2 linked regions of the Homo sapiens genome follow. The protein of the gene in region 1 purifies or fractionates together with the protein of each later gene. This does not show direct contact. Each region holds a gene or a part of one and is shown in the gene's direction. Other genes may lie near its edges.

Region 1 (3,827 bases):
ATCCCCAGCGCAATCTTCAGCACTAGATTCTCAGAACACTGGCAGCTAAGTCATTACCCTCAGGCCAAAGGTTGAAGGAGTCTTTTCTGAAGAATCTCATCAGCCAAGAGGAAAGACCTACAGATATTGACATTAGAGTTTGCAAAATATTGTCCAACGAGATCATCCTACAGTGATGCTGATGGTGGACAAAGCCTACACACAGCTCAAAGCCTTCAATAAGCTTTTATAATCTCCTACTTATCAACAGGAGCAGACAAAGAGGAAACATCTGAGGAAAGCATCTAACAGAAAAATTGACGATGTCTATGAATTCTTCTAAATGACTGTTTTGTTTGTGTGTGTGTGTATCTGTGTTTAGTGTGTAAGTGGGTGTATCTGAGTGTGTATGTATGAATATACACCTATATGTGCATCTATGGGTGTATCTGGGTACACAGGGGTGTGTGTGTGTGTGTAAAGCTCGGAGAAATGCTGAGTCACGGGACCCATGCACCCACATCTCCCATATTCTGCCCGCCACCCACGTAGAAGTGTGACTGTGCAGGAGCTGCTCACAGAACAATGTCAGCTGGGCACAGTTGATCCCAGAAGCCCCTGAGCAGAGAGGTTTTGAGGATGGTTGGAGCACTTGGAGCAACCAGGTCTCAGCCTTGGCCAAGAGAAGGGCCAGGTGTGGTGGCTCATGCCTGTAATCCCAGCACTTTGGGAAGTCAAGGTGGGAAGATCCCTTGAGTCCAGGAGTTCAAGACCAGCCTGGGCAACATGGTGAAACTCCATCTCTATGAAAAATACCAGGTGTGGTGCACATGCCTGGGAGGCTGAGGCGGGAGGATCACTTGAGCCTGGGAGGTTAGGGCTTCAGCCATGATGGTATCACTGCACTTCAGCCTGGGTGGCAGAGTGAGACTTTGTCTCAAAAAAAAAAAAAAAAAAATCATAAGGATCAAGTGTGGGTGATAGCATCACTGTCCCAGCACCTCACTGCCCGTTATGAGGAAGAAGCCCTATCTGACTTTGCTGGGTGTCCCACCCCTGTGACCCAGCTGCCTTTTCAGACCAGCTGCCTGCAGATACCTGTGGGTCTACAACTAACTTGTCATTCAGCCCTCAGCTGAGGAAAAAGGGGCCCCGAAGGGAGGCCCTGATCCAGGCGTCACAGATCTAGTCAGACAAGAAGTGACAGGGTAAGTTGAGGTGAACCCCAAAAAGCACAGGGGCCCAGGGCCTGGACCAAGAACAGGAAAAGTGTCAAGGTAGGGTGAGGACCAGGCCAAATTGAAGGTCAGGGTCAAAGGCAACACTGGTGTCAGGGCCAGAGCCACAGCAGAATCAGGGCCAGGTTGCAGTCAGGAAATTACTTTTTTTTTTTTTTTTTTTGAGACGAAGTCTTGCTCTGTCGCCAGACTGGAGTGCAGTGGCACGATCTCAGCTCACTGCAACCTCTCCCTCCTGGGTTGATTCTCCTGCCTCAGCCTCCCGAGTAGCTGGGACTATAGGAGCTCGCCACCATGCCCAGCTAATTTTTGTATTTTTAGTAGAGACGGGATTTCACCATGTTAGCCAGGATAGTCTCCATCTCTTGATCTCGTGATCCGCCTGCCTCGGCCTCCCAAAGGGCTAGGATTACAGGTGTGAGTCACCACGCCCAGCCGGGAATTACATTTTAAAGTAGGTGCCCCTCCAGCACTGTCCTTCATTTTCTTTAAGATGCTAGATTCCCAGAGAGCCTTTCCTGTCCAAGACACCTACATAAGGCAGCCAGCTCCCAGGGTAGCCCTCTTTTCTGAGACTGGGGCCTGATGCACTGTTGGCAGAGACCCAGCCCTGCTCCCAGGCAGCATACAGTCTAGGAGAAAAAGGACAGGTATATGTAGCTCTGACCTTCATGAGCTCCCCACCAGGAAATGGCAGAAATGAGAAAGTCAGAAAACTACTCTGACGTAAGGCCACCGCTCGGCCCCAAGCCCTAGCCTTGGATGAAAAGAAAGGAGGAAAGGGTAATTCAGACAAGAGCACTGTGCAGAGGAGCCAAGGCTAGCATGGGAATCCCTCTGACATGGGGAGGGGGGTTGGGAGACCCACCTGGGCTGACCTTCTCAAGAGAGGCTGGATCTAGTTCCAGCAAGACCCCAGGGCTGGGGTCTCTGTGCCCCTAACCACTTCTCTCCTCTCCCCTTGCCCAGGGTCTGACTCATACCATGGAGCGACATGTGGATCCCGAAGCCCTGCAGAAGATGGCCAAATGTGCTGTACAGGACTACACTTATAGGGGGTCCATATCAGGCCACCCCTACTTGCCTGAGAAGTACTGGCTTTCTCAAGAGGAAGGTAAGGCCTCACCCTTTGCTGACCCCTAAAATGACCCCCAACCTGAACCCAACCACCTGGATCGTGACCTCTATCCTTTTTTTTTTTTTTTTTTTTTTTTTGAGACGGAGTTTCGCTCTTGTTGCCCAGTCTGGGTGCAATGGCATGATCTCGGCTCACTGCAACCCACTTCCACCTCCCAGGTTCAAGTGATTTTCCTACCTTAGCCTCCTGAGTAGCTGGGACTACAGGCATGTGCCACCAGGCCCGGCTAATTTTTGTATTTTCAGTAGAGATGGGGTTTCACCATGTTGGCCAGGCTGGTCTCGAACTTCTGACCTCAGGTGATCTGCCCGCCTCGGCCTCCCAAAATGCTGGGATTACAGGCCTGAGCCACCATGCCCAGCCTCCATCCTGATTCTATGTCAACTTTATCTCCACCCATGACCTAGATTTCTTCCCTAACCACCCCCTCCACCAACCACCTGACCTGACCCTGGCCCTGGAGGAGATGACCTAGGCCCTGCTTTTTGGGGTTCTTGTCGGTGGAAAAAAAAACCTGGAAGGGCCCTGGGTCCCATCCTTAGCGAGTTGGAGAAAGGATTAACCTCCCACAGACAGATCCCTCCAAGTGCATTCCAGATACCATCTCCTCCCATCTTCCCAGCCATCCTGCTCCCATCAGCTCCCTCCACCTCTCCTGCATCCCTCTGCCCCACCACACCTCTTTCCCTCAACCTGGAACCTTCTCTAGTTTCTTCCCAACTAAAAATTATCTCTTGCTCCTGTTCTCAACAGCCTAGGTTCTCGGAAACATGGTCCATACTCACTGTCTCTATTTCCTCACCCTTTCTTATACCTTATGAGAAACTGTCTTTCTCATTTGCTTGGATATAATATAATCTGTCTGGCTGTACATTCGAAAAGAGCCGAGTCTGGTCTTATTCACAGCTGTGCCCCTCCATCGAGCACAGCACCAGGCTTCATAAGTCTTTGTTGAATGGACTGAGAATTCCCAATGGAAGTTGGGAATGTGCATCTCCTATGATGAAACAATAAATTGCTCTTGCATGGCTCTGATTACCAAATCCACAGGACTCTGCAGTCTTTACCCTCTGAGACCTTTACCCTCCTAGACCAATGAATTGCACTCTTCTGACCACTCTCTACTCGTTTTGTTGTTGATGTTGTTTTGTATGTTAATCCTCCAGCACACAGGCTATGACCACACTCTACTTCTTGAAACAACTTCCTCCTCAGCTTCTCTGATGCCTCCCTTTCCTGTGCATCCACTGTGGAAACATGGGGTTCCTCAGGGTGTTATCCTGCACCCTCTTCTCCCCTTGCTCCTCCTCCAAGGCCATTTGATTTAACACAAGCCTTTAATTACTGACAGCTTCAAATCCTAATTTCCAGATTTGTCCTCTCATCAGAATTCCACTCTTCTTCATATGCTTATAGTCATCTTGATCTGGATGTCCCCAAACACCTCAGTTTCAGTATGTGCAAACTGCCAT
Region 2 (2,821 bases), on another chromosome or scaffold:
CCACCGCACCTGGCCTTTTTTTTCTCTTTTTTTGACAGTGTTGCTCTTGTTGCCCAGGCTGGAGTGCAATGGCATGATCTCAGCTCAGCACAACCTCCGCCCCCGGGTTCAAGTGAGTATCCTGCCTCAGCTTCCCGAGTAGCTGGGATTACAGGCATGTGCCACCATGCCTGGCTAATTTTGTATTTTTGGTAGAGATGGGGTTTCTCCATGTTGGTCAGGCTGGTCTTGAACTCCCGACCTCAGGTAATCCACCTGTCTCGGCCTCCCAAAGGGCTGTACAGGCGTGAGCCACCAAACCCAGTGACATGTGCATTCTTTTAAGACCAGGGACCAGATTTTTATTTTGTACCTAGTGTGGCTTGTGGTTCCTTCCAATTCAGGGTTGTATAGTATTCAATTTTAAATTCCACAGGACATATGGTAATAATATGTCTCTTTCGTTTAATGACTATGTAATTATAGGACTTCGCATGAAATACCATTGCCTTGGAAGATATGTTTACCTCTAGGGCTCCATTCATTGAAGGACCTTATCATCGCTAACTCTTAAAGAGAACTGATGTAGAACCATAATTTTTCTAGGAGTGTTATCTTCCCACTTAACAACTGGCACTGTGAATACACCTTAGAAAAATTAAATTTCTACATATTTCACTTATCCCAAAAAAGAGAAGTTATTTCTTCTCATGCTCTTTGCCCTACTTAATCATTGCTACCCTGACAGTGAGAACACTCACATATGCCCTATGGAATGTAAAATTCTATGCTTTTAGACTTTAAACTATTTTAAAATCTTTAAAGTTTATGTATATATTTGGCAGTATGTTTATGGTGGTTATATTTGCTACATGAAAGAAACCTTGCTGTGGCCCTTTTTGCGATACAAACGATCACCTGTTTAATCTGTAGTATAATAATAATATGTATAATAATAGTATATTTATGTATATTTTCTTAAGTTCAATCAAGCATTATTTGTACAGTTCAGAATAAATCCTTCTTTTTTTCTTTTTAATAACAGTGTCCGATAGACACCAGGAAGCAACTAGCAGAGAATTTGGTAGTCATAGGTGGCACTTCTATGTTGCCAGGATTTCTCCACAGATTGCTTGCAGAAATAAGGTATTTGGTAGAAAAACCAAAATATAAAAAAGCACTTGGCACTAAGACATTTCGAATTCATACTCCACCTGCAAAAGCTAATTGTGTGGCCTGGTTGGGAGGTAAGAATTTCACTTTTAAAATATAATGATTATATAGTATTTGGTCTCTGAATGACACTATTAATGGATATATTAGAATAAATAATTCAGGGTTCAGAATTGCCCACTTTATAAATAGAACTAACACTGACTTTTTCTTTTTTTTTTTTTTTTTTTTTTTTTTTGAGACGGAGTCTCACTCTGTCGCCAGGCTGGAGTGCAGTGGTGGTGCGATCTCGGCTCACTGCAGCTTCCGCCTCCCGGGTTCAAGCAATTCTGCTGCCTCAGCCTCCTGACTAGCTGGGACTGCAGGCGTGCACCACCACGCCCAGCTAATTTTTGTATTTTTAGTAGAGACGGGGTTTCACCATGTTGGCCAGGATGGTCTCGATCTCTTGACCTCGTGATCCACCCACCTTGGCCTCCCAAAGTGCTGGGATTACAGGCATGAACCACCATGCCCAGCTGACTTTTTCTTAAATTGTATTAATTTTCAGAATTTTATACCTATTTCTCTTGGCATTTGCACCGTGATATTAAGTAAACGTTCTCATTTAGTTAAAGTCATCCCTCAAAATAGTGAAAGCTATGAATTTATTCCAGTGATGCTACCATTTCTTTCTTTCTTTTTTTTTTTTTTTGAGACGTTTCATCTTTGTTGCCCGTCCAGCTGGAGTGCTATAGCGTGATCCCAGCTCACCGCAACCTCTGCCTCCCAGGCTCAAGCAATCCTCCTGCCTCAGCCTCCCTAGTAGCTGGGATTATAGGCGCCCGCCACCACGCCTGGCTAAGTTTTTTGTATCTTTAGTAGAGACAGGGTTTCTCCATGTTGGTCAGGCTGGTCTCAAACTCCTGACCTCAGGTGATCCGCCCGCCTCTGCCTCCCAAAGTGCTGGGATTACAGGTGTGAGCCACCGCCCCTGGCTTACCATTTCTTAAAATGTTCATTTTAATGTCTTCTAAAGCTAGTGAGCCACATATGAAAATTGGCCTCTTTAATTTATGAGTATATTTGTGACTGAGTTCATTAAATGTTTTAAGTAGTGATGGTTTCACTGAAATAAGCAATTAACCTAATAAGTACAGTTGACCCTTGAACAACATGGGTTTGAATTATGTGGGTCCACTCATATGCTGTTTTTTAGGAAATATGCTAGAAAAATTTTGGAGATTTGCAACAATTTGAAAAAACATAGACAAACCATGTAGCCTAGAAATATCAAAAAAATTAAGAAAAAGATACATCATGAATGTATAAAAATATATATACAGATACTGGGCTGTTTATGTGTTAATCGACTATTCATGTTATTGGTAAGACTTCTCAGTCAACAGTAGACTATTGGTAGTTAAGTTTTCGGGGAGTCAAAAATTATACATGGATTTTCAACTGCTTGGGGGTCCACACCCCTAATCCCTGCATTGTTCAAGGATCAGCTGTAACTACTTTGAAGGGAAAAACAATCATGAATATGTACATTTATACAGGTTCTGATATGTGTTTTATGATGCAGTTAGAGCTAGAAGGTATCAGGATTGTGCATTTAGAGAAAGAGTAGTATGACATTTTAAAATGAATGTTACATTATTTCTTGTAAAATAGAATTTGGTCAAAA

The links.
Region 2: the proteins of SPMIP6 (region 1) and ACTR10 purify together in Homo sapiens (affinity purification with mass spectrometry, with the first as the bait; one large-scale study listed by BioGRID). This does not show direct contact.

The regions. Positions count from the first base shown.
Region 1 is NC_000009.12:34,384,141-34,387,967, reverse strand, and holds part of SPMIP6 (sperm microtubule inner protein 6), read left to right. Parts: intron 1-2,186; coding exon 2,187-2,331; intron 2,332-3,827. UniProt on the Homo sapiens protein: May participate in intramanchette transport and midpiece formation of the sperm tail. May play a potential role in somatic cell proliferation.
Region 2 is NC_000014.9:58,231,042-58,233,862, forward strand, and holds part of ACTR10 (actin-related protein 10), read left to right. Parts: intron 1-1,024; coding exon 1,025-1,226; intron 1,227-2,821. UniProt on the Homo sapiens protein: Part of the dynactin complex that activates the molecular motor dynein for ultra-processive transport along microtubules.